7 linked regions of the Homo sapiens genome follow. The protein of the gene in region 3 purifies or fractionates together with the protein of the main gene of each other region. This does not show direct contact. Each region holds a gene or a part of one and is shown on either strand. Other genes may lie near its edges.

What was found.
Region 1: the proteins of C1QTNF9B (region 3) and IDH3G purify together in Homo sapiens (co-immunoprecipitation; one large-scale study listed by IntAct). This does not show direct contact.
Region 2: the proteins of C1QTNF9B (region 3) and CSPG4 purify together in Homo sapiens (affinity purification with mass spectrometry; one large-scale study listed by BioGRID and IntAct). This does not show direct contact.
Region 4: the proteins of C1QTNF9B (region 3) and FAHD2B purify together in Homo sapiens (co-immunoprecipitation; one large-scale study listed by IntAct). This does not show direct contact.
Region 5: the proteins of C1QTNF9B (region 3) and CHPF2 purify together in Homo sapiens (co-immunoprecipitation; one large-scale study listed by IntAct). This does not show direct contact.
Region 6: the proteins of C1QTNF9B (region 3) and MRC2 purify together in Homo sapiens (affinity purification with mass spectrometry; one large-scale study listed by BioGRID and IntAct). This does not show direct contact.
Region 7: the proteins of C1QTNF9B (region 3) and TMEM132A purify together in Homo sapiens (co-immunoprecipitation; 2 studies listed by BioGRID and IntAct, with this or other methods). This does not show direct contact.

What each region holds. Positions count from the first base shown.
Region 1 is NC_000023.11:153,788,322-153,791,375, reverse strand, and holds part of IDH3G (isocitrate dehydrogenase [NAD] subunit gamma, mitochondrial isoform a precursor), read left to right. Parts: intron 1-524; coding exon 525-566; intron 567-800; coding exon 801-812; intron 813-1,083; coding exon 1,084-1,181; intron 1,182-1,551; coding exon 1,552-1,664; intron 1,665-3,054. UniProt on the Homo sapiens protein: Regulatory subunit which plays a role in the allosteric regulation of the enzyme catalyzing the decarboxylation of isocitrate (ICT) into alpha-ketoglutarate.
Region 2 is NC_000015.10:75,678,349-75,681,848, reverse strand, and holds part of CSPG4 (chondroitin sulfate proteoglycan 4 precursor), read left to right. Parts: intron 1-3,500. UniProt on the Homo sapiens protein: Proteoglycan playing a role in cell proliferation and migration which stimulates endothelial cells motility during microvascular morphogenesis. May also inhibit neurite outgrowth and growth cone collapse during axon regeneration.
Region 3 is NC_000013.11:23,894,703-23,898,781, reverse strand, and holds the start of C1QTNF9B (complement C1q and tumor necrosis factor-related protein 9B precursor), read left to right. Parts: upstream 1-1,279; 5' UTR 1,280-1,364; intron 1,365-1,555; 5' UTR 1,556-1,660; intron 1,661-1,775; 5' UTR 1,776-1,795; coding exon 1,796-1,961; intron 1,962-4,079. UniProt on the Homo sapiens protein: Probable adipokine. Activates AMPK, AKT, and p44/42 MAPK signaling pathways.
Region 4 is NC_000002.12:97,088,383-97,091,882, reverse strand, and holds part of FAHD2B (oxaloacetate tautomerase FAHD2B, mitochondrial), read left to right. Parts: 5' UTR 1-20; intron 21-170; 5' UTR 171-176; coding exon 177-421; intron 422-1,557; coding exon 1,558-1,774; coding exon of another isoform or gene 1,775-1,831; exon of another isoform or gene 1,832-2,307; intron 2,308-3,500. UniProt on the Homo sapiens protein: Tautomerase that converts enol-oxaloacetate, a strong inhibitor of succinate dehydrogenase, to the physiological keto form of oxaloacetate. It is thereby required to maximize aerobic respiration efficiency by preventing succinate dehydrogenase inhibition.
Region 5 is NC_000007.14:151,235,483-151,239,322, forward strand, and holds the end of CHPF2 (chondroitin sulfate glucuronyltransferase), read left to right. Parts: coding exon 1-130; intron 131-925; coding exon 926-1,108; intron 1,109-1,473; exon of another isoform or gene 1,474-1,690; intron 1,691-1,891; coding exon 1,892-3,199; 3' UTR 3,200-3,340; downstream 3,341-3,840. Other genes in the region: SMARCD3 (SWI/SNF-related matrix-associated actin-dependent regulator of chromatin subfamily D member 3), read right to left, coding at 3,621-3,674. UniProt on the Homo sapiens protein: Transfers glucuronic acid (GlcUA) from UDP-GlcUA to N-acetylgalactosamine residues on the non-reducing end of the elongating chondroitin polymer. Has no N-acetylgalactosaminyltransferase activity.
Region 6 is NC_000017.11:62,626,371-62,630,469, forward strand, and holds the start of MRC2 (C-type mannose receptor 2 precursor), read left to right. Parts: upstream 1-1,299; 5' UTR 1,300-1,432; coding exon 1,433-1,550; exon of another isoform or gene 1,551-1,680; intron 1,681-4,099. UniProt on the Homo sapiens protein: May play a role as endocytotic lectin receptor displaying calcium-dependent lectin activity. Internalizes glycosylated ligands from the extracellular space for release in an endosomal compartment via clathrin-mediated endocytosis.
Region 7 is NC_000011.10:60,934,460-60,937,659, forward strand, and holds the end of TMEM132A (transmembrane protein 132A isoform b precursor), read left to right. Parts: intron 1-28; coding exon 29-305; intron 306-792; coding exon 793-984; intron 985-1,404; coding exon 1,405-2,448; 3' UTR 2,449-2,700; downstream 2,701-3,200. Other genes in the region: SLC15A3 (solute carrier family 15 member 3), read right to left, coding at 2,760-2,914. UniProt on the Homo sapiens protein: May play a role in embryonic and postnatal development of the brain. Increased resistance to cell death induced by serum starvation in cultured cells. Regulates cAMP-induced GFAP gene expression via STAT3 phosphorylation.

The sequences.
Region 1 (3,054 bases), on a different chromosome or scaffold from region 3:
TGCTTGTCTCAGGGAGGCCGGAGGCTGGGTGCTACCTTCTTATCTCCCTATTCTGCTTTTTCTGTAGCGACCACATGCTGCTTTTGTAATAAGAAAAAGTGATCGGCGAAGTGATAACGTGACTGTTGTCATGGATCTGTGGTTTGTTGTAATGATTTCCCTGCTGTACCAGGGTTAGTTTGCCAGTTTTTGCATGTTACAAACATCGCTGAGCGGGAATAACTGGCCAAAAAAATAATCAGAAGCAAAAAAGAGGAGGGAGGGCAGGGACACGCCTTTTAAGAAATTTTCTGAAGAGCGGAAGGAGGCAGGAGGCTGGAGCGCCTTCTACTTTCCAGGTGCTCCAGCGGGCCGGCCCTGGGGACTGAGGCTTTGGAGCTAATTATCTATTGTGCCCCTGGCAGTGGGCCATGCTGCACAGACAGGGGACCTGCCTGGGCACAGTGGGGACGGTCCGTTTTTCCTTCCAACTTGGCTTTCTGGGTTAGACATCAAACCAACCGCTGGCATTTGGTCTCTGCCAGGTTCTAGGCGCCCACGAGGTCCCCTCGAGGAACATCTTTTCAGTAAGTACCTGCCCGTGCCCACGCATGTGTCTTTCTCCATGTGGCCGCAATTGTGCGCGTGTGTGCACGGCCTGTGTCCTGTCCTCTGAGACGTGGTCTCCAGGGGCTACCCACCCCTCTTCTGGGAGTTGTACTAGCCAGCATCCCCCTGGGAAAAGGTCCCACTTTCCTGGTCACGGCCTTGCTCTTGGAACCTTGGCTGATTGTGTCTTCTTCCTTTCTCATCCTTTCTAGGAACAAACAATTGTGAGTATTCTTCTCTGCCTGTTAGGTTTGGGGGGCTCTTAGTTGCTTTGGGGTTAACTAAATTCCAGGTGGGGGTGGGCTGCTGCTGACCCAGGAGCCCTGGATGAGCAGCCCTGTCTGGGACGGGGCTGCCCCAAGTTGGCACCTTGTGACGGGGCAGCCTGTGGGGTCAGCGCCAGTGGGAAGAAGGGAATTGGCTTGAGCCCATGGGGGCCGAGCTGGGGGCATGTGGGATCCCCGAAGGCCCACCTTCACCCTCTGCCTCCCACAGCCTCCGTCCGCTAAGTATGGCGGGCGGCACACGGTGACCATGATCCCAGGGGATGGCATCGGGCCAGAGCTCATGCTGCATGTCAAGTCCGTCTTCAGGTATGGAGCTCCTGGGTCCCCGCCTTGTCCTCAGCCAGGGGGCCCTGAGGACTTTGTGCCAAGAGGGGCATTGCGCCCAGAAGCACTCGGTGAGGCCATGGCAAGACGACCTGTAAGCCCAGGCCTTGCGTCCCATGGCCTGTGATCCCGCCAGACTGGCCTGGGCTCGGGGAAGGTGGCACCAGTCCTGCCACAGTGTGCATTGTGGAGTTCAAGCGTGTCCCCATCAGTCAGTGAAGGTGGGCCCAGTCCCTTCTCAGTCAGAGCCAGGTCAGGGCAGGTAGCAACAGGAGAGAGGTAGCCTGGGCAGGCTTCCTGGAGGAGGTGCGGGGGGGTCTGGGCCAGCCTCCCTGACCCTGCCGTGCCTCAGGCACGCATGTGTACCAGTGGACTTTGAAGAGGTGCACGTGAGTTCCAATGCTGATGAAGAGGACATTCGCAATGCCATCATGGCCATCCGCCGGAACCGCGTGGCCCTGAAGGGTGAGCTCCAGGGCCAGGGGCCAGGATGGGGCCCTAGGTGTGATTTCTTTCTTGCTTTCTTCCTTCGTTTCTTGCTTACTTGCTCGCTTGCTTGCTTTCTTGCTTGCTTTCCTGCTTTCTTGCTTGCTTGCTTTTTTGCTTTCTTGCTTTCTTTCTTGCGTTCTTTCTGAGATGGGGTCTCGCTCTGTCGCCCAGGCTAGAGTGCAGCGGTGTGATCTCGGCTCAGTGCAACCTCTGCCTTCCAGTTTCAAGCGATTCTCCTGCCTCAGCCTCCCGAGTAGCTGAGATTACAGGCGCCCGCCACCACGCCCAGCTGATTTTTGTATTTTCAGTAGAGAGTGGGTTTCACCATGTTGGCCAGGCTGGTCTTGAACTCCTGACCTCGTGATCTGCCCGCCTCAGCCTCTCAAAGTGTTGGGATTACAGGCGTGAGCCGTCGTGCCCAGCCCCTGTGATTTCTTTTACCTCCCTCTGAGCTGACTCTTGTGGGGCCCCACGGCTCTGATTTCAGGGCTTGTCTGGCTAGAGAGGACCCTCGTGCTTGGAGACTGGGTGGACGCCTCCTCGGGCCTGTTTGCGCTGCGATGCTGGGATTCGAGTGAGAGCAGCTGTGTGTGAGCCTGTCCAGTGACGGGCTCCCTGATGGGTTCCCTCCCACCCCTCCTTCCCTCCTGAGACAGTCCTCTCTGCTGGGGTCAGCTTTGACCCTCAGCATCTTTCTTCACAAACCAGGTATCACAGAGATGCAGTTCCGACCCTCTGCCTGGCTCCTCGGCTGCAGCCAGCCTGGAGGTGGATGGCACAGCCCAGGCAGGGATTCTTGGGGCTTCACTTGAGGTCCTTAAACTACTTCCATTGCTCATTTTGCACACTCAGCCCATTACTTGCACTGTGTGAGGAGCGTGTGAGCAAAGATGAACCCAGGGGGAGCCCCAGGCCCTGGCAGTCAAGTAGAGGGGCCTTTGTGCCAGCCACAGGGGACCCCCGCGCTGTGAGTGGAGCAGTCTGGGTGGGGTACCGCTCACCAGCAGGCGGCCTCTGCTTGGCGCCCTCTGACTGCTGTCTCCAGCGGCCACTGGCCTCTGCTTCCCTTCCTCCAGGTGTCCTGGGTCGTAGGGTAGGGTCCGGCCAATCCGTGGCCTTCTCCAGGCAGCCCCCGCCTGCCTCTGAGTGTGGTGCCTTGATGCGGGGGCTTGGCAGTAACACCGCCAAGGCCACCTTGCTAGCTCCAGCCTGGCCGGCCAACCTGTTAGTAAAGAGTGGTCACTTTCTGTTGCTCCAGAGCCTGGATGGAGAATGGCATGGCTGCCTGGCTGGTTGCCAGCCTTTATTCATTTATTGACTTGTTCATTCCGTCGTTCAGGGGTTATTCATGGAGCACCTGCTGCAC
Region 2 (3,500 bases), on a different chromosome or scaffold from region 3:
CCAGAGGCAGAGTGGATCCTAGGGGCAGATGAGCTGATGAAAGGCAGCTGAGTCAGCCAAGAGGGTGAAGCTGCTGTTCATCCGTCCTGGTGGCTTCAGAGACCACCAGGAAGAATTAGAGCTCTCAGCCATGGGTAGCAGCAGACTCTCTGTGATAACTGTGCCATGGGGGCCAGCCCAGTCATCACTTAAATGAACACCACTCGCTGAAGACAGAACAGGAGTTGTTCCATAGCAGGGCAGAGCGGGGCAGACTCTTCCATGGGCCATCCCAGGCAGGCGGCACATGTGATGCTCCCGCCAGGAGGCTGCATGGGCATCTGGACCCAGCACATGATGACAGTGAATTCTGGGTAGGGAGTGGTCTTGTGGGGCGCAGAGCTGACTCTCACTCAGGAGCCACAGCATATGGTACTGCCCCAAGTACCTCCTGAGGGGTCCCCCTGCCAGCCTTCAAAAAATGGCAGAGCCCACCCCAGCCCCCTTTCCTAGCTCGGCAGGGACTCCTGAGCCTGGCACTCTCCCTCCTGAGAGGTGCAGATGGTATTCAGCAAGTGCAAAGGCAAAGTCCCTGCCCAGCAAGTGGCTCAGATTTGGGCATCTGGAAGGAGGTGGCTTTGACAGGTGGAATGAAGTTTCTTGGGCTTCTCACATCAACACCTCCCAGTCCCAGGTTCTGTATTTCCCTGGCTCCCCACTCCTGCTATGGCCCCCTCCCCACAATGAGATATTTGTCAGGCTGGTGTCTGCAGCTGCTGCGTACCCTCAGTTGCTGGGAGCCTTTGTCAAGAATGCCCAGGAATGGAGAGGGCACGGGACCAGGCCATCAGCAACCCTCTTGCACTTTATAGTCCCACGTTACTCAGAGCTTCCCCGTGCCCCAGAAATATGAAGGACTAGACTGAATGGACACCAGGGGGTCAGGCTGGCAGTGCCACCCAGGAAAGCAGGGAAGAGGCTACGTGGGCTACCCTGGCCCACTCTGGGAGGAGGGCAGGACTGGGTATTGTCTTGACAGCAGCCCTGTCCCACAACACTAAACTGGGCAGGGAAGGGGTCAGGTGTCCCCATTTTTCAGATAAGGAAACAGGCTCGTGGAGGGCAGGTAACTTTATTCAGAGCACATGGCGAGTAAGAGGCAAAACTTCTGCCTGCGAGTCCAGGATTTCCTTCACTGGAGGACACTGCTTGCTCCCCAGAGCTCAAGACCCTGTTTTTTGTCTCACTCCCACCCACAGAGCTCCCGTACCCAGGCATCAGCTCCCACTCCCACTCCTGGGGGCTCCATTTCCTTCCTGCCCACCATTCAGCCTGGGCCAGAAGTTGCCACTGGCAACTCTAGTCCTGGGCCAGATCTGGCCCACAGACGTGTTTATTTGGCCTACAAAAAGCAGCTAATACTTTGAAGTTAATTGTCAACATATAACCTTTGGGAAATTAAACAAAAAACTTGATTCCCATTTTCTTAAAAGGCCTGTGTTCCCTCTTACAGCGAAAGCAGGGGAGCAGCCACTTCCTTTAGAACAGGTGCTAGCCCCTATTCAGATAGCTCGGCTCTCCTTCAGACTGGGCTCAGCTGCCCTTTAGCCCAGGCTCTGCTCCCCTTAGACCAGGCCCTGCCCCCACCTCAGACTGGGCCCTGCCTCCCCTTAGCCCGGCCCTGCTCTCCCTTAGCCCAGGCCCTGCCCCATCTTAGACGGGGCCCTGCTCCCCTTACTCCGGCCCCTGCTCCCCCTTACTCCGGGTTCTGCTCCTAGAGTCTTCACAGGTTAAGACCCTGTTAAGTTTCCATGTTACTATTGGGCAAGTCCTGTTTTTCTCTGAGAAGAAAATAGTTCCCAGTGTTTCCTAAAAGGGGAAAATAAGGCCGGGCGCGGTGGCTCACAGCTGTAATCCCAGCACTTTGGGAGGCCAAGGCGGGTGGATCACGAGGTCAAGAGATCGAAACTATCCTGGCTAACATGGTGAAACCCCATCTCTACTAAAATACAAAAAATGAGCTGGGCGTGGTGGCACGCATTTATAGTCCCAGCTACTCAGGAGGCTGAGGCAGGGGAATCGCTTGAACCCGGGAGGTGGAGGTGGAGGTTGCAGTGAGCCAAGATCGTGCCACTGCATTCCAGCCTGGGCGACAGAGCAAGACTCCGTCTCAAAAAAAAGGGTGGGTGGGGAGCAAAAGATAGGCCAAAAGAACACATTGTGATTGGAGGTGGAGAAAACCGTTTTTCTTCCTGGAGCGAAGAATATTCTTTGGTGTTGAACTGCAGGCAGCACCATAGAACAGCAGGTGTGTCTGGAGTGGAGGTGAGGGGAGTTGAGGTCGCAGGGGTGATATGGTCACAGCCAGGCCTTAGTGGTCAGATGGGGAGACACTGCACTATGTGAGCCAAAGAGCCCCATAATCTTCCCTTTCAAAAGGCTCACTCTGGCTGCTGTGTTAGGAACAAAATGTAATGGGCGGGGGACTGCAGCTGGGACACAGGAAGCTGTTACGATAATCCAGGTGAGAGATGCGGTGGTTTGAGGGAAAGAGAGGATGCAAGGGTGGTTCCAAGGGTGTGGCCTGAGCCCTTGAAAACGGAGCTATAGTCTCTGAAGCAGGATGACTGTAGGAGGTGGGGGCCGATCGGGAGTGCAGCCGGGGCAGGTTGAGTTTGAGGTGTCTATTAGATATCGGCAGAGGTAGCTGGAAACATGAGTCTGGGGTTCAGGGGAGAGCAGGCTAGGCTGGAGCTACAAATAAGGGGGTCTCAGCACAGCTGGCATTTGAGGCCAGGAGACTGAATAAGGACTCATGGAGAGTGCCTGTAGACAGAAAAGAGCCTGGAGACCTGGCCATAAGATGTTGGGGAGAAGAGGAGGACCAGCCAGGAGAGTCTGTGAGGTAGGAGGAACCCCAGAGTGAAGTATCCCAGAGCCTGTGGCTCTCTTGGAGGAAGGGTTGCTTGGCGGCACCAGTGCCACTGAGCAGTTAAGAGGAGGCTGAGAGCCGACCGCTGGATCCAACAACACGGAGGCCTCTGGTGCCCTTGGCAAAAGGAGATGTGGCGATGGGGGAGCAAAATCCTGGGTAGAGAGACCCAAGAATGCCTGGGGGAGAGCGTGGACTATGCTTTTTGAAGTTTTGCTGCAAAGAGAAGCAAAGGGGCAGGGGTGAAGCTGGTGGAAAATGTGAAGTCAAGAATAGTTTTTTCTGGCCAGGTGCAGTGCCTCCTGCCTGTAATCCTAGCACTCTGGGAGGCCGAGGCAAGTGGACCGCTTGAGCCCAGAAGTTCAAGACCAGCCTGGGCAACATAGTGAGACCCTGTCTCAACAAACAATAAAAAAAAATAGCTGGGTGTGGTGGCATGTGCCTGCAGTCCCCGCTACTTGGGAAGCTGAGGTGGGAGGATCGCTTGAGCCCTGGAGGTCGAGGCTGCAGTGAGCCATGATCACGCCACTGCAGTCCAGTCTGGGCAACAGAGCAAGACCCTGTCTCAAAATAATAATAATAATAATTA
Region 3 (4,079 bases):
CAGCTACTCGAGAAGCTGAATTGCTTGAACCTGGGAGGCGGAGTTTGCAGTGAGCAGAGATGGCACTCCAGCCTGGGTCACAAGAGTGAAACTACATCTCAAAAAAAAAAAAAAAAAAAATTAGCCGGGTGTGGTGGTGCATGCCTGTAGTCCCAGCTGCTTGGGAGGTTGAGGCAGGAGGATCACTTGAGCTGGGAGGTTGAGACTACAGTGAGCTGTGATTGCATGACTGTACTTCAGCCTTGGTGATGGAGCAAGACCTTGTCTCCAAAAATTATATATATATCCTAAGACATCTCCCATGATGATACATTAATTTCATTCAACAAGTATTTGTTCAATCTGCTGTTCCAAGTTTAATATTGAGTACTGGGAAGGCAATAATGAGGAAATACAGTCAGGCGGGGAGTCAGATTCTTCATCCTACAATTATGTAAACAAGTGTCAAGCCCCTGCCATGACAAGCGCCATGTGGGAGAGTAACAGGGTGCTCCACAGCCCTGAGTGGGAGCGTTGCTGAGTCAGGAGGCCCAGCCATCCACGTTTCATCTTCCTTCCAGGCCTTGCGTTTGCTGCTCCGTTTGGAGCACTGCCCAAGCGTTGTCTTAGCTCCTGCTGCGGGGGAAACTGCATGGATAACCTGGGGTGGGGGCAGTGTCTACAGAGGAAAGGACTTGAAAATGCACTTCTCCCGAACTAGGTGATGTTTTCTGTGTGTGTGGCCCTTCTTCACAGTGGCCTCCTAGAAAAACAAGACCCTGACTCAAAGAATACCTCTCATTACAGTAAGACTGTTTGGAATGCTTTACTTTTTTAAAAATTTAATTTAATTGTTTAATGTGGTAAAAAAAATATATAACATAAAACTAACCAGCTTAACCATCTTAAGGGCACAGTTCAGTGGCATTAAGTACATTCTCTTTGTTGTGCAACCATCACCACCACCCATCTCCAGAACTCTTTTAAAATCTTCCCAAACTCTGTACCCATCAAACAACTCCCATTTCCTTCTCTCTTCACCTCTGGCAACCATCATCCTACTTTTTCTTTATATGAGTTTGACGGCTCTAGGAACCTCTTATAACTGAAGTTATCCAGGTCTGTCTGTTTGTGACTAGCTAGTTTCACTTAGCATAATGTTCTCGAGGTCCATTCATGTAACACATGTCAGAATTTCTTTTCTTTCTAAGGCTGAAGAATATTCCATTGTATGGACCTACCACATTGCATGTATCTGTTTATCCACTGAGGGACCCTTGGGTTGCTATGGAAAATAATGCAACTACGAACATGGACATCTGTTCTAGTCCTTGCTTTCAATTATTTTGTGTAGATGCACAGCAGTGGAATTGCTGGATCAGATGGTAATGCTATGTTTGCTTCACTATTTGTCATGTGCCTTTATGCATATTGTGATAAAATTTGATTTTTACAATAGTCCTGTGAGATAAGTAAGCATTGGTCTGTGGTTAAGAGAAGTGATTTCTTCAAAGTGAAATGATGAACGGAAGAGTATCCTGACCTTAAACTTGGCTTTTTTTTATTGCCCGTTCAGCTTGAAGAGTGGTTCCAATCACAAGTGTTACCTTCCAAGGACAATGTCATCCTGGTAATAACCAGCTTGCTCCCCTGCCCTGAGTCTTCTGCCAAGTCTGTCCAGGTGTGGGTCTGGGGCAGGGGACAGCTCATCCATTTCCCACTGCACAGAACGGAGGCTGTGTCCAGGGCCCCAGCAACAAAGGTTTCTCCTCTGGGTTTCTGTTTCCCTCTTTCAGTTCAGTCTGTCATCTGAACCATGAGGATCTGGTGGCTTCTGCTTGCCATTGAAATCTGCACAGGGAACATAAACTCACAGGACACCTGCAGGCAAGGGCACCCTGGAATCCCTGGGAACCCCGGTCACAATGGTCTGCCTGGAAGAGATGGACGAGACGGAGCGAAGGGTGACAAAGGCGATGCAGGTACTCACCTGACGGCTTCGGCTGCCTTTGAGCTTCTCTCTTCATTACTTTCATCTCATTCACTCATCATCTGTGTGGTTTTCCACCTACCCACTCACAACCCATCCATCCATCCACCCAGCAACATTCACTGGAGCCTGACCCCATTCATCCATCCACCCATCTGCCCAGCAACACTCACGGGGTCTGCTCCATGCCAGACTCTGTGCCAGGTGCTGGTGGAGAGCACAGGGCCAGATCGCCATGACCCCTGCCCTCCTGGGTTCTCTCATCTCTGACACCGCAGGACATTTTCAGTAGTATACAATGTCATGGATCCTCCCACCTCAGGTGACAGGTATGTTGGATTTTTGGCAACACGAGGCCAATAGAGAGATCTGATCATGAATTATTTGGCAGCAAGCACCCAGCTGCAGTGCAGGTGAGAGCTAATACCATATCATGTCATGAAGCAGGAGATGCGGAGTGACAGATGACACATACAGCTGCTGCTTATGAATCTATGACCTAGGCAGGGTCTGGGGATCTGGGGACAGAATCCATCCTCTGGGAGGGAGATTTGCCAAAGCCTGGAAGTCTGAGTGCTTTCCATAACAACAACCAATAGACTTGGTTTCTGAATGGGGTACCATTCTTGAGGCCTGGTCTTGACCATAGGGTCACATATCTAAGACTTATGCAGAATGATTCACTGGGTTAAGAGCACAGTTCAGTGGCATTAGAAAGAAAATATCAAAACTTCTATGGACCTTTTTACAAATAAGTTTGTGTTTCTAACATGTCTCACTTTATGGCATTTGGTGGCCTGATAGTTTTTTGAATGGGCTGGATGAAGCCAAGGGTCACCAGGAAGCAACTTTATTTCTTTCTAACCGGCACATCTGCTCTGTGAGGTGTCTTCTCCTGGCTCCTCACATCTCCAGCTCATTGAGACTGTTCCAGTCCCCCGGTAGCAAATAGCCCAGTCCAAATGAATACTAAAACCTTACCCTTAATGAAATCAGGTCTTCTGCCCTCACACTGTGACCACAGTGGTGTGTGTGTGTGTGTGTGTGTGTGTGTGTATGTCTGTGTCTGTGTGTATTTTATTTCTGAATGTTTAGGATTTTCATTTTTTAAATTTTTGTTATAAAATATTACACATAAAAGGAGATAAATAGGTGATACAAAATACAGAGAACTAAGACAAACACTTCTATATTCAATACCAAATTTCTCTACCTCTTCCGTGTTGAATTTCTCTCCTCTGCTCACCAATGTCCATTCTTTCAAGTTTTACATACTTCTTAGAAGCAAATGTTATATCTATTTTTTCTATGTAATTCATAAGTATTATTTGTAATATATATTCTTTCTTAGAAGGACATTCAATCACATTGCTCACACTAAAAATTTACTTCATTTTTATCTTACCATCTTAAAGTGTATTTTTGTGTATGTTTTATACCAAACATATTTTTCATATACTACCTGTGCATAATGTAGAAACATATAAATGTCTACTGATTGGGGTCTGTGTTCATGCTTTGTGAGTTGTGGTGCGTGATCATGAAAGCTCAGAGGCCACTGCTCTAGAGAATGGGAGAAACGAGAGCCAAGCAGGGGAACAAAAAGAGGGAAGGAGAGGAAGACACAGGGGAGCAGCCAGTAGAGGGGAGGGAAGGGGAGCGCAGGGAGGGGCAAATGTAGGGATAAGCCCCCTCCATTCAGAGGTCCCACGCTGACCAAGGCCCCACTCAGGAGCGCTGGTGTCCCAGGAGAACAGACATCGTGACAGAAATAAGTCTGCCTGTGTCAGTCCTGTCTCAGGACCTGCAAGCCGGCCCAGCCTGCGCCTGTCGCCCCACAGCCACGTCAGTGGGTCTGAAGTATGGGAGTCTCTGCTGCTTTGTGAGAAGCCAGAGTCTGGGGTGAGCTGTGGCCCAATGAGCACTCTACTGCCATAGCCAGAGCCACCTTCAACCCGCTGACGGATAGCACGCCGACCTGGAGCTCAGGGGGGCCTGTTCTGAGCACAAGGACTTGAGTGTAGTCAGCAGAGCCCCACTCACCTGATGTTCTCTGCCAGCTCGATTAGTAGCATTTCCCCCAGTGTAAGGCACTAGAGGGATCCCTCCA
Region 4 (3,500 bases), on a different chromosome or scaffold from region 3:
CACCTTATGAAGTATAGCAGGTAAAATACAAGCCTGGACCGCTTCCCGTGTGGTATGCAGGGAACGGTTGATGGGGCAAAGGGCCTTGGGCTATAGCCCTAGGAATATCAGGGATGCTGATGATGGCTCTGAGATCCTCCATCTCCTGGATCCTGTGTTTTTCTCTGCAGGCTCTGATGCTGGTGTCTGGTAGAAGAAGATTACTCACAGCTCTGCTGCAGGCTCAGAAGTGGCCCTTTCAACCCTCCAGAGACATGAGACTAGTGCAGTTCCGGGCACCCCACCTGGTGGGGCCTCACTTGGGCCTGGAGACAGGGAATGGTGGAGGGGTTATCAACCTCAATGCCTTTGACCCCACACTCCCAAAGACGATGACGCAGTTCCTAGAGCAGGGAGAGGCCACCCTCTCAGTGGCAAGAAGGTAAGTAAGTGGGCAGCATCGCCCTGAAGCAGCTGCCCTGGTCCCCCTGCACCCTCCCCGCTCTGGGAAACAGCACCAGCAGGTAGCTCTTTTGCAAGGGAGCAGAGTAACCCCACCTTTCCTTTTCTCCCGTTCTCTTAAAAGATCCTTAGAAATCTTACATAATAACATCTTCAGTTTTCAGAGGAGAAAACAGAGAGCTAGGGGAGGTGATTAACAATTTCAAGGCCATACATGTGGTGCTGGAACCAGGACTCTATACTTCATCACACTGCCTCCTCTGGGAATGAAGTCCTGGACTGACTGACGGGTCTGGGCCCGGGGGTCCTAAAAGGCATCTTATGCAGCTGGGGGAGTGATATAGACTCCCAGCTCCTACAAGGAGAGAGGACTGCAAGGAGGTTTTCTATAAGACACTTGGTTCCTGGGTTTGGACTAGATTAGGTGAGAGTGTCCCTGAAGCCTGGACCCCTATAGAATCTGGTCTAAGGAGCTGATGAACAATAAATTAAAAATACTTTAAGATGTCATTTTCATCTATTAAAATGGAAAAAAATACAAATGTTTCACAGCTCACAGTATTAACAGTATGTTCCCATATTGCCATATTCTGCAAAGACTGGAAATCTCCATGCCCCTCATTAGGGACTTGGGTATATCTCTATAGAGCAGTAATATGCAGCCACAAGAAATAAAGAGGACACTCTCTATGTATTGTTACATATTGTTAAGCAGAGATCTCCAAAGTCAGTTGTTTTTTTAAAAGATGTAAATAGTATGCTATCATTACATACAAAAGGGTGGGAGAAGAATATCCATAGAGTAGCTGCGAAGAGCCAGGGGAACGGGGTAACCAGAAGGGGAAAGGGAGACCTTTCCATGTATTCCAGTTTGTATCTTTTACATGGACATGAGTTACCTAAGGGGGAGAGGAAATCAATACTGGATAAATAAAAGCCCTGCTCTGACAGCAAAGGACAATAGTCAGTGGTTTTCACACTGACTCTGATGGTTGATAGAGCTAGGAAATAGATTTCAAAAAGCAAAACCTGTAGCTGCTGCAGGATCTGCCCAGCCTGCCCGGGATTGCCCACCTGTTCCCAGCCAGACCCTCTCACCTGCTCTGGTCTCTACAGAGCCTTGGCTGCCCAGTTGCCAGTCCTACCATGGTCGGAGGTAACCTTCCTGGCTCCAGTCACATGGCCAGATAAGGTGGTGTGTGTGGGCATGAATTATGTGGACCACTGCAAAGAACAGAACGTGCCCGTGCCCAAGGAGCCCATCATCTTCAGCAAGTTTGCCAGCTCCATCGTGGGGCCCTATGATGAGGTGGTCCTCCCACCACAGAGCCAGGTCAGTGCCTCCCCACTGCCCTCCCTAGTCACTGGGCCCATCACAAGGGCATTCTGAGCTCAGTATTGAGCCTACTGGAGCCACCTCTCGCTCAGTAGTGCATTCAACAGAAACTCTACAGGATTATACACACAGTAGTAACACTGGCCTTGGAAAAAAAAAGTTAATGTACGTGTTTTCCTGGTTACAAAAGCAATACACCTTCACTGTAGATAAAACAGAGATAAACATTTAAAAATTACGTCACCCATAATCCCACTGCCCATGGCTCGGAATATTAATGTTTTTCTGTCTACCTTCCCAGTGTTTCTCCACTCCTGTATATGTTTATACTGTACATATACTTACCTTTTACTTAAGACTCCATCAGGAGCATTTTTTCATGCCATTAAATATTCTCCCTGACATATTTAGGTTACCTTGGAGTTTTGTGATGTACAGGGTAGTTTATATTCCTGAGTACCTTACTGCTGGATACTTGTTTCCAGTTTTTGGTTTCTATAAATAAATGTCGCAATGAACATCCTTATGTAGAAAAGACTTTGCATGTCCATTAATATATTATTATTTCCTTTTTTTTTTTTTTTTTTTGAGACAGAGTCTTTCTCTGTTGCCAGGCTGGAGTGCAGTGGTACAATCTTGGTTCACTGCAACCTCCGCCTCCTGGGTTCAAGTGATTCTCCTGCCTCAGCCTCCCGAGTAGCTGGGACTACAGGCGCATGCCACCACGCCCACCTAATTTTTGTATTTTTAGTAGAGATGGGGTTTTACCATGTTGGCCAGGATGGTCTCAGTCTCTTGGCCTTGTGATCTGCCTGCCTCAGCCTCCCAAAGTGCTGGGATTACAGGTGTGAGTCACCACACCCGGCCTTATTATTTCCTTTGAATGAACTCTTAGGATTTGAATATTATCAAACTACAGGCAGTATTTCAAAACCCTTGAGAAAATCTCCCAATTGTCCTTTAAGCAAATTGTAAGAGCAACTTACACATCCATCGTTAGTGTATATACCCTTACTAACACTGGTTACTTTTCCTCGCAAATTTTTATTTTAGAAATGTCTTGGGAATTATAGAAAAGCTGAAATAATACAGTGAATGCTCATATACTTTTCACCTGGTTTCACTGTAGACATTTGCTGTATTTGCTTTCTCTCCCTTGCCCTCTCCCTGCCCTTCACATGGCAAACACACATTTTTTTTTTGGCAGGGGTTGGGGTGACACATTGCAAATATTGTCATAAAACTGAAATAGACACTTTATAAGGACAATGGCTTGCATGACCATACCATTATCACAGCCAAGAAAATTAACTTGAATGATATTTAATATGAAATCCAGTTGCCCCAAAGATGACTTTTAATTTGGTTACTTTGTTGCTCTGTGATCAACCAAGGGCACACACTGTATTCAGTTATATCTCTTTAGTAGTTTTAACCTAGAACAGGGTTCCATAGACTTTTTCTTAAAGGGCTGTATTAGTCTGTTTTCTTGCTGCTAATAAAGACATATCCGAGACTGGGCAATTTACAAAAGAAAAAGGTTTAATTGGACTTACAGTTCCACGTGGCTAGAGAAGCCTCACAATCATGGCAGAAGGCAAGGAGGAGCAAGTCACATCTTAGGTGGATAGCAGCAGGCAGAAAAGAGCTTGTGCAGAGAAACTCCCGTTTTTAAAACTATCAGATCTCGTGAGACCCATTCACTATCATGAGAACAGCACGG
Region 5 (3,840 bases), on a different chromosome or scaffold from region 3:
GAGTCTCCTGCTTCGTCTGCGGCCACATCTGGATGGCTGCCGAGGAGACATTCTCAGTGCCCGTCCTGACGAGTGGCTTGGACGCTGCCTCATTGACTCTCTGGGCGTCGGCTGTGTCTCACAGCACCAGGTGACAGCTCTTTCAAGTCAGTCCCAGTCCCTGATAAGCTAGTGGGGGATGAGTGATTGGCCTTCCTCCCAGCAGCACCTTAGAGGCCATTGTTCCCCCTTCCTGGCCACTGGCCGCTCTGTGGGCCCTCCGTTGCTCACCTTTGGCAATCTGAGAACCTGGGGCTATCAAAAGTAGTATCTTGTTAGGAACCCCTAAGCAAGACCAAAGGGTGCTCCTACTCAGCAGTCCTTCTCCCCTGCCCCCCTGCCCTCCACACCTCCCCCGACATCCACACTTCAGTTATGGCAGTGTGGGCATGTCTTAGAGATGGCTAGTCTCCAGAGAAGTGAGGTGATCACTTTTCCAGCCCAGAGAGCTGCCCTGTTTCTTGTGCTGGAGAAGAGTGGAAGAACCCAGAGGTGGCTCATCCTCTCAAACCAAAGTATTGGGAGGATTTTCTGGCTTGTGTCATTCATTCCCTTGAAGAACAATGGGAATCTTTGGGGGAAGAAAGTATCATTATTATTATTTTTAATATGTTATTTCTGTGATGGCTCCTTGCAGAGCAGGGCTAGCCTGTAAGCAATGCACTGAGAGTAGCCGAGAGTGTCCTTAGTTGCCTACTTGCTTTCTACTTTCCAAAATGTGGGCAGTGAAAGAACTGGGGTTAAGCGAGGTGCTGGAAAGGGTGCCTCTTCTGTCCTCTGTTCTAACGCAGCAGTGCTAACAGATGTGAACACTGAGTATGGTTAAGGGCGGTTTGGGACTGGCAGCTCTTGTGTGTGTCATTGATTGGTCTGATTGTCCCTCTAGGGGCAGCAGTATCGCTCATTTGAACTGGCCAAAAATAGGGACCCTGAGAAGGAAGGGAGCTCGGCTTTCCTGAGTGCCTTCGCCGTGCACCCTGTCTCCGAAGGTACCCTCATGTACCGGCTCCACAAACGCTTCAGCGCTCTGGAGTTGGAGCGGGCTTACAGTGAAATAGAACAACTGCAGGTGAGCTGAAGAGGAGCAGGTGGGCAGAGGACCGCAGTCAGAGGGTCAGAGAGAGCCTGAGATGTCCAGGCGTGCAATGAACGAGCAGCTGGCAGTGGGGCTGGGCTAGGCCCTGTATAATGGCAGGGCAGGAAGAGGCCGACCATACTTAAATTTAAAGCAACTACAGGGACAAAGGTCTTTGGGGGTCCAAAGCAATCATAAGGTAAGCTCCCAGCACAACTTGAATGCAGCTAAAGGGGTTTGCAAGTAGACTCTGAGGATCAGGAAGCTCCGCACAGTGTTCAGACAGAATAGTTTTAGCTCCTCCTCAATAGTGCCTGTCCACTGAGGAGGCAAAAACTCTGAAGTTTCTTTACTTCTAGAACTGTCCCAAGAAAGCCCAAGGGTAGAAGGGAGAATTCTCAAGTTGAACGTCAGGCTTGGCAGAGGTGGAGTGTAGATGAAAACAAAGGTGTGATTATGAAGAGGATGTGAGTCCTTTGGGTGTAGGAGAGAAAGGCTGTTGAGCTTCTATTTCAAGATACTTTTACCTGTGCAAAAAGCACATTTTCCACCTCCTTCTCATGGCATTTGTGTAAGGTGAGTATGATTCCTATTCCATCTGCATTTTAGAGGTGAAGAATAACGTACAAGGGATTCAGTGATTAGCAAGGGACCCCTCACTAAGTGTTGATGGAGTTAGGACAGAGCTCAGCTGTTTGAATCTCAGAGCCCAGGCAGCTGGAGCTGGGTAGGATCCTGGAGCTGGCACTAATGTGAGGTGCATTCCCTCCAACCCAGGCTCAGATCCGGAACCTGACCGTGCTGACCCCCGAAGGGGAGGCAGGGCTGAGCTGGCCCGTTGGGCTCCCTGCTCCTTTCACACCACACTCTCGCTTTGAGGTGCTGGGCTGGGACTACTTCACAGAGCAGCACACCTTCTCCTGTGCAGATGGGGCTCCCAAGTGCCCACTACAGGGGGCTAGCAGGGCGGACGTGGGTGATGCGTTGGAGACTGCCCTGGAGCAGCTCAATCGGCGCTATCAGCCCCGCCTGCGCTTCCAGAAGCAGCGACTGCTCAACGGCTATCGGCGCTTCGACCCAGCACGGGGCATGGAGTACACCCTGGACCTGCTGTTGGAATGTGTGACACAGCGTGGGCACCGGCGGGCCCTGGCTCGCAGGGTCAGCCTGCTGCGGCCACTGAGCCGGGTGGAAATCCTACCTATGCCCTATGTCACTGAGGCCACCCGAGTGCAGCTGGTGCTGCCACTCCTGGTGGCTGAAGCTGCTGCAGCCCCGGCTTTCCTCGAGGCCTTTGCAGCCAATGTCCTGGAGCCACGAGAACATGCATTGCTCACCCTGTTGCTGGTCTACGGGCCACGAGAAGGTGGCCGTGGAGCTCCAGACCCATTTCTTGGGGTGAAGGCTGCAGCAGCGGAGTTAGAGCGACGGTACCCTGGGACGAGGCTGGCCTGGCTCGCTGTGCGAGCAGAGGCCCCTTCCCAGGTGCGACTCATGGACGTGGTCTCGAAGAAGCACCCTGTGGACACTCTCTTCTTCCTTACCACCGTGTGGACAAGGCCTGGGCCCGAAGTCCTCAACCGCTGTCGCATGAATGCCATCTCTGGCTGGCAGGCCTTCTTTCCAGTCCATTTCCAGGAGTTCAATCCTGCCCTGTCACCACAGAGATCACCCCCAGGGCCCCCGGGGGCTGGCCCTGACCCCCCCTCCCCTCCTGGTGCTGACCCCTCCCGGGGGGCTCCTATAGGGGGGAGATTTGACCGGCAGGCTTCTGCGGAGGGCTGCTTCTACAACGCTGACTACCTGGCGGCCCGAGCCCGGCTGGCAGGTGAACTGGCAGGCCAGGAAGAGGAGGAAGCCCTGGAGGGGCTGGAGGTGATGGATGTTTTCCTCCGGTTCTCAGGGCTCCACCTCTTTCGGGCCGTAGAGCCAGGGCTGGTGCAGAAGTTCTCCCTGCGAGACTGCAGCCCACGGCTCAGTGAAGAACTCTACCACCGCTGCCGCCTCAGCAACCTGGAGGGGCTAGGGGGCCGTGCCCAGCTGGCTATGGCTCTCTTTGAGCAGGAGCAGGCCAATAGCACTTAGCCCGCCTGGGGGCCCTAACCTCATTACCTTTCCTTTGTCTGCCTCAGCCCCAGGAAGGGCAAGGCAAGATGGTGGACAGATAGAGAATTGTTGCTGTATTTTTTAAATATGAAAATGTTATTAAACATGTCTTCTGCCAAACTGTTTTTAGGTCTAGGGAAAATTGAGTAAGGAGAAGAATCCAAGGGAAGGGAATGGGGAGTCGTCCCGAGGGACCCACTGCCTCCCCACCTTCTTCCCTTCCCCTTCTCTCCCCCTCCCCTCCCCAGTTTCCAATGACCACACGGCTGCTGTCAGATGAATGACTTTTAATCCAGCCCCACACCCCAAGGTGGCAGAGGAGTGATGCTGGAGCCCGGGGCAAAATGCTGGGGCCCGGGACACGGCTGAAAGTTCCGTCGTGCTGCTTATTTTTGGGCTCCTAGGTGTTGCGCACAACCAGCGACTGCTCCAGCTCCTGCCTGCGCTGCTGGATCTTTAGAGGAAGTGAGAACAGGAGCAGGTGTCAGTGTTCTGGTGAGTGATCAGGACAATCCCACCTACTGACACCGCCTGCCCTGAAAGAGCATCTGGGAGCAGGGAGGGCCATTGCATGGTGAGGCAGCGTGGTGAAGCTTTACTGTGGGGAGCTGCGAGGGCTG
Region 6 (4,099 bases), on a different chromosome or scaffold from region 3:
AAAGGAAAAAAATTGAATTTATTTCCAAAAAACATACCAAGGTGGACAAGATAGGAAACAATACAATTTATATTACAGTTTTATTATTATTTAAAAATTTTATATTAACAAAATGAGATGGGATCTGCCTATGTTGCCCAGGCTGGTCTTCAACTCCTGGGCTCAATCTCCTCGGCCTCCGAAAGTGTGATTACAGGCGTGAGCCACCGCACCCGGCCCATATTACAGTTTCATAGTGTTTTTGATTACTCGTGGTAGGAGAAATGTGTCTTCTTTGCACTTGGGGTCTCAACGTCTCAGTCCTGCCCTATGCCCCGAGACCCCAAGAGGCTTTCCCAAGGTCAGGCAGGGAATCCGCAGAGAGGCAGGGCTGGACTCCAGCATCCTGACTCCCCAGTTCGTGCTCTGTGCTGCAGAGACCTGTTGCGTAACACTGAGTAACTGTGGATTGTCTAACCTTTTATGAAATTTCCAGCTGGTCTTTTGCTACCGGCCAGCAGTCCAGTTGGTGGGAGTGATGATGCCGGTCTTCTGAGACGTCCAGTGGACAGATTTTCCCCAGGTTTCTGGATGCAGCCCCAACAAGCAAAAGTGCTACACTCCTGCACCGGGAACACTGACACAGGGGTCACGAAAATGCTAAAACAAGACGTGCAAGAATTGTTGCGCTCCGCACACGTAACAAGGGCTCTGCCTCCCCCTCCCCCAATCTTCGCCCTGGTGGCCAGGCCCTGGGCTCCGCCCCTTCCCCACCAGACCGGGGGAGGGGTCCTCCTCGGCATGGAGGTAGGGGATGCTAGGCTGCTGGAGACGCCCGCAGAAAGAGGCGGGATGGCGGGGCGGATGCTGGCGGCCCGGGTCTGGCCACCTGGGTCAGCTGCACGCCCCCGCCCCGGGCTGGCCGGACCTCGTAGCCCAGGTCCCACCACGCCGTGAAGTTTGCGGAAAGTTTTGCAGTTGCTTCCCCGCCCGCGCCAGCGGGGGAGTTGTGACGCAGCGTCTGGGGATCCTGGCCGGGACAGAAGAGAGGGAAGGCGAGGCGGGGAGAGACTGGGAAACAGAGCAGCAAGAGAAAGGGCGCACGCTGGGGTCCTCCTGGACCCGGCGTGTCCTCCTCTCCGCCACCCCTTTCTCTCCCTCCCGACGCTCTAGCCCCAGACCCGCGCCTCCTCCCCTTCCCCTCCCACGCTGCCCACTTCCCTTCCCCTCTACCCCTCGAACCCTCCTCCCCGGTTCTGCGCTCCTCCCTCCGCCCTCCCTCCGCCCGGGCTGCCTCCTCCCTCCTCCTCCCCGGGAGGCATCACTTCGTCCCGACCCGGAGGAGGACGCGAGCCCCTTGCGGGCGGTCATCACAGCCCAGCCTCGGGGCTGCCACAGCGCGTTGCGCCTGTGCGCCCTCGGTCCCCGCGTCCACTGAGCGCCGCGCTCGGGGATGGGGCCCGGCCGGCCGGCCCCCGCGCCCTGGCCTCGTCACCTGCTGCGCTGCGTCCTGCTCCTCGGGTGCCTGCACCTCGGCCGTCCCGGCGCCCCTGGGGACGCCGCCCTCCCGGGTAAGGCGCTGCCAACTTGGCCAACTTCAGGGCCCGGGCGGGGGGAGCGCCGAGGCGCGGGCCGCTCTCGACTTTTCCCTCCTTTTCCCCCCTCTTTTCTCCAGAAGCGTGTGTGCGTGTGTGTGTGACTGGGTTTTTAAAACTCGTCTCCGCTTTTCTGAAAGCGGGGGAGGAGAGGGGAGGAGGAGCGCGCCTAGAGGTGGGGGAGGACCTGAGTGGAACCAGATGTGGCGGGCGGCGGGGGAGGGGAGCCCGGGGGACTCCAGCAGCCTAGGAGGAAGCGGGTGGGCTCTTGAGGACCCCCGCGCACCGCGCTCCCGGACCACCCGGCGCCGGCCCGTCCTCGGCAGGGGACCTGCAGGGCGCGCCCGGGGAGCCAGGGCTCTCTGTCCGGGAGTTCCCGGGCCCAGTCTCCTCGCTCTGCCCCAGGACTGATGCGTTAGGACGGCTTTCCAACTATCCGCGAGGGTTCGTTTCCCCCACCTTCCCCCCGCCCCCTGCATCTCGTGGGCGTTGATATTTTCTTTTCCACACTTAGTCTTCAAGGAGGCTTGTGGCGCGCGGCATCCGCCCCGCGTGAGCTCGGCAGCCCTGTGAGGAGGCTCCTGCCACTGGGACGCAGCAACAGGCTGGGCGCCGCCGTGCTGTGATGTTGCGTAGCGTGGGCAGCTCTGGGCACACTAGTGGCCCTCCAGAGGGGACAGACCTTGAGCGGCAAAAGAGCTGCTAAAGATTTTAAAACCCAACGAACAGGAAACAAAACAAAAATCAGAAAACCCCAAAACTGTGCCATTCTCTTCCTGCTCCTTATTCAGGGGTAACAGTGAAGTGTGGGGACAGACAGATCCCTCGCCAAGAATCTAAGAGTTGAAAGGAAAGATCCACTTCCTGGGGGAGTGGGGGTGGGGGTGTCTGGAGTGACCGGGGGAATCGCCCGGCCCAGCTTGGTCCTGCTGGCTGTTTAATTGGGGGATGGGGACAGTCCGTGCAGTGTCTGCAGTTTTGTGCAAGGACCAGACAGCCCCCTGGAGAGTCTGGGGCCTCCAGCCTGGCCCGTGCTTGCTGGGTTGGCCTGGCGTGACGTAGGCACAAGACACATATCTGCCAGATGGGAAAGGTGGGGGCCACGGTGACCCACATTCACACCAACCGGAGACCCCCGGGGCAATTCTGGGCCCACCTGGCATTGAATGTGGGACAGACACAAACCAGGCCGGGTAACCCCCTAACCCACTGCAGGGCGGCCTCACAGGCAGTTCCCCTACCTCCTCGCACTCCTGCCTTCCTCTGCTCCTCTGCGCAGGGCCTCAGGAGGCAGGCGGTGGGAAGGGGTGGGGAGGATGGCCATTCCCAGAGCTCCAGAGCACACTTTAAAGCCAGGCCCTGGGAGAGAGTTGTGGCCAGAGTGCTGACTCGGCCTTTCCCCCTGGAGCTTTTCATAGAGGGGGCTGGAAGTGCCTGGTGAGAGGCCCGGTCAGGGAGGACAAGGACGCCTGGAGTGTCCCTCCTCCTCCTGGTCTCTGTGCCTGGCCCTCCCTGGGGCTGTGTCCAGGGATGAATAGCCTCAGAGGGTCCCCTTCCCGTTGGCACTGCATTGACCACACCCTGAGGAGGCTTGGATCTGGGTGGCAGGCAGTGTGAGGTCTTCCAGCAGCAGCTGAGCAGGAGGAGGATGGAGCTGCTGCAGGTTCCTTCCCTCGGAACCGTGCCCTCTGCACAGAGTGCGCTTGCCCCTGCCCTGCCAAATTCCACTGGGCCCTACCCTGGGAAGCCTGTTCAGAGCCTCTGGGCCGAATTCCTTGCCCGAAGAGCTGGCAGCCCCTAGTACCTGGTGAATTACGTTGTTGTTGGGAGGAATTCACCAGCACCAGAGACCAAATAGCCCAGGAAATGCATGTGGGAGGTAGGGTGTGGCAGGCCAGTGCTGCTGGGGGCGAGGCTTATGCCAGGCAGGGCAGGGGCTGCGTGTGGGCAGTTTCCTGACCACCATGGGGGAGCCCTGTGTGCCCAGAGCACGGGGCAGGGGCAGCGAGGCGGCAGTGCCTTCTTGGTGCGTGATGGTGGAATCCATCTTTTCTCCACCTTGGTGGAGTGGCCCGCGGAGACTGTCACTGGAAGGAGTCCTCTTTGTTAGTTGCCATATTACCGCATTTCTGGAGCATGCAGTTTGCTCAGCCTTGAGCCAAGTTCTTGGGGAGGAGGGAAGGTAGAGAAGAGTGTAAGATGCATCCTCTGGAAAAAGAAAATCGTGTGGGAGAATGAAACGTGGAACAGTGAACTGCGTAGGGGGCAGAATGCCATTGGTGGGATGCCTGCCTGCCCAGACCCACGCTCAACCCTTCATGTGCAAGTTCCCATTTCATTTTGATAACAACCCAAGGAGATGGTTATTGTTGGACCATTTTTGCAGTTCAGGAAATGAAGGCTAAGAGGGGTCTGATCATTTACATTGGTCACACCCCTAGTAAGTGAAAGGCTGGAGTGTGGATGCTTCCCGTCTGGAGATTGGAGGCAGGAGAGACCGTATGGGCCAAAGGGTGGCCAAGGCT
Region 7 (3,200 bases), on a different chromosome or scaffold from region 3:
GGCCAGTCCCGGCCTCCCCGCCCTGCAGGCCTGCGGAACCCGCTGCAGAGGCGTCGGATGAGGCCGAGCGGCGCGCCCGTGGCTGCCACCTGCAGTACCAGCGGGCCGGTGTGCGCTTCCTCGCCCCCTTCGCGGCCCACCCGCTGGACGGCGGCCGCCGCCTCACGCACCTGCTTGGCCCCGACTGGCTGCTAGACGTGTCCCACCTCGTGGCGCCACACGCCCGCGTGCTGGACTCGCGTGTAGCCTCTCTGGAGGGTGGCCGTGTCGTGGTGGGCCGGGAGCCCGGTGTCACCTCCATTGAGGTAAGCAGCTGGGGACCAGGAGAGTAGACCCCCTGAGAAGGGTGGAGGGGCCCCCAAAATGTTCGTGGGTGGGAGTGAAGAGTGTGCCAGGAGCCCAGAGTGTGTGGGGGAGTTGTGCGGTCTAGGTCTGAGTGCAGTGGGATTGGGGATAGGCTCAGAATGGGGTGGCCGCATAAGGGGGGAAGCCCTCTAGCTATGAAGGGCTGAGGTGTGGGTAGTGTGGGGACCGGGTCTTGAGGGAAAAGGGAACTGCCCCCTAGGTGTGGGATTGGGGTCCAGGTATGCACCGGGGTGCAAAGAGTAGAGGGATAGTAGCCCATGAGCCTGCTGGGAGTACCCGGTTCCCTCTGGGTGGGGGCTGTCCGTGGCGAAGACCTCCCCCACCTCCGGAGGGCAGCCCGTGAGGGTGCTGGGAGCACCCGGTTCCCTCTGGGTGGGGGCTGTCTGTATGGAAGGCCCCCCACCTCCAGCTCCTTTCCACCCTCAGGTGCGTTCCCCACTGTCTGACTCCATCCTGGGGGAGCAGGCGCTGGCTGTGACGGACGACAAGGTCTCAGTGCTGGAGCTGAGGGTGCAGCCAGTGATGGGCATCTCGCTGACCTTGAGCCGGGGCACTGCCCACCCCGGGGAGGTCACAGCTACGTGCTGGGCACAGTCAGCCCTTCCCGCCCCAAAGCAGGTGACAGTTGGGGGGTCAGGGGGATGAGGTCAACATCTCCAGATGGGGGCTCATGGTAGAGGGGAATGGGAGGAAGGGACCCTGGTACCTCGACCCCTTAGGGTTTTCAGAGTGAGGACTGACTCTGTGAGGTAGTGAGCTCTCTGCAGCTGGAGGTGATCAAGCAGTGGCTGGAGTATGGCAGTGGGAGGTTGGTTAGATGGCTCTAACTGAGGACCCTCCCAATAACTCAGACCCTAGGGCTGAGTGGCAGACAGGTGATTGACACGCGTCCCCTCTCTCCCTGTGTTTTGTCTATCTGCCTGTGTCTCTGTTTTCTCTCTGGTCTCTCCTCCATGTGGCCTATCTCTGTGGGAGTGGTTTCTCTGTGCATGCGTGCGTGCCCTCGCATGTCTCTGCCTGTGTCTGTGTGCCCCACAGGAGGTGGCCCTCTCCCTATGGCTGTCCTTCTCTGATCACACTGTGGCCCCAGCTGAGCTCTACGACCGCCGTGACCTGGGACTGTCCGTCTCAGCCGAGGAGCCTGGTGCCATCCTGCCAGCTGAGGAGCAGGGTGCCCAGCTCGGGGTGGTGGTGAGTGGGGCAGGCGCCGAGGGGCTGCCGCTGCATGTGGCTCTGCACCCGCCCGAGCCCTGCCGCCGGGGCCGCCACCGTGTGCCTCTGGCCTCTGGCACCGCCTGGCTGGGGCTGCCCCCTGCCTCCACTCCAGCCCCTGCTCTCCCATCCAGCCCTGCTTGGAGCCCACCAGCCACAGAAGCCACCATGGGTGGTAAACGGCAGGTGGCAGGCAGTGTCGGGGGCAACACAGGTGTGAGGGGCAAGTTTGAGCGGGCAGAGGAGGAGGCCAGGAAGGAGGAGACCGAAGCCAGGGAGGAGGAGGAGGAAGAGGAGGAGGAGATGGTCCCTGCCCCTCAGCATGTCACTGAGCTAGAGCTGGGCATGTACGCCCTGCTGGGAGTCTTCTGCGTGGCCATCTTCATCTTCTTGGTCAATGGTGTGGTCTTCGTCCTGCGCTATCAGCGCAAAGAACCTCCCGACAGTGCCACTGACCCCACCTCCCCCCAGCCCCACAACTGGGTCTGGCTGGGCACTGACCAGGAGGAACTGAGCCGCCAGCTGGACCGGCAGTCCCCTGGCCCGCCCAAGGGGGAGGGGAGCTGCCCCTGTGAGAGTGGGGGAGGAGGGGAGGCCCCTACCCTGGCCCCTGGCCCTCCTGGGGGCACCACCAGCTCCTCAAGCACCCTGGCCCGAAAGGAGGCTGGGGGGCGGCGGAAGCGAGTAGAGTTTGTGACATTTGCGCCAGCCCCTCCAGCCCAGTCACCTGAGGAGCCTGTAGGGGCCCCTGCTGTGCAGTCCATCCTTGTGGCAGGCGAGGAGGACATCCGCTGGGTGTGTGAGGACATGGGGCTGAAGGACCCTGAGGAGCTTCGCAACTACATGGAGAGGATCCGGGGCAGCTCCTGACCCTCCACAGCCACCTGGTCAGCCACCAGCTGGGGCAACGAGGGTGGAGGTCCCACTGAGCCTCTCGCCTGCCCCCGCCACTCGTCTGGTGCTTGTTGATCCAAGTCCCCTGCCTGGTCCCCCACAAGGACTCCCATCCAGGCCCCCTCTGCCCTGCCCCTTGTCATGGACCATGGTCGTGAGGAAGGGCTCATGCCCCTTATTTATGGGAACCATTTCATTCTAACAGAATAAACCGAGAAGGAAACCAGAGCTGGGACTGCTGCCGTCTGTCCGGTAGAGTGAAGCAAGGGGGCTGGAATAGGGCCTGTTCAGCCCCTGTCCCTGCTGAAACGGCTGTGGGAGGCTGGGCCCTGGGACGCCCTCTCATAGCGTCCAGCGATCCAGACAAATAGGAGAGCCGTGACGGCCTGAATGCCAGCCAGCAGGAAGAAGTAGAGGTCCATCCGGCAATTGTTGATGTTCCCTGGGGAAAGGAGGGGTTAGATTTGGGTCAGGACAGGGATCCTCTGTCTTGCGCCCTGTGCCTGCCGTGTCCTAGCCCTGGGGCTGGCAACTGAGGCCATGTGGGCAGTGGTGGGATCTGAAGACACTGGACAGATACCCACTAATGTTTGACTTCCTGAAGATCTCCAGGGGTGTCTACAATTCCTCTTCAGCTATTCAGAAGGGGGCGTGAAATATAAACACCATGAGAAAGGTAACCCTTCAGCCAGAGATGGCAGAGTTCCAGAAGCAGAAAGGAGCCTTGG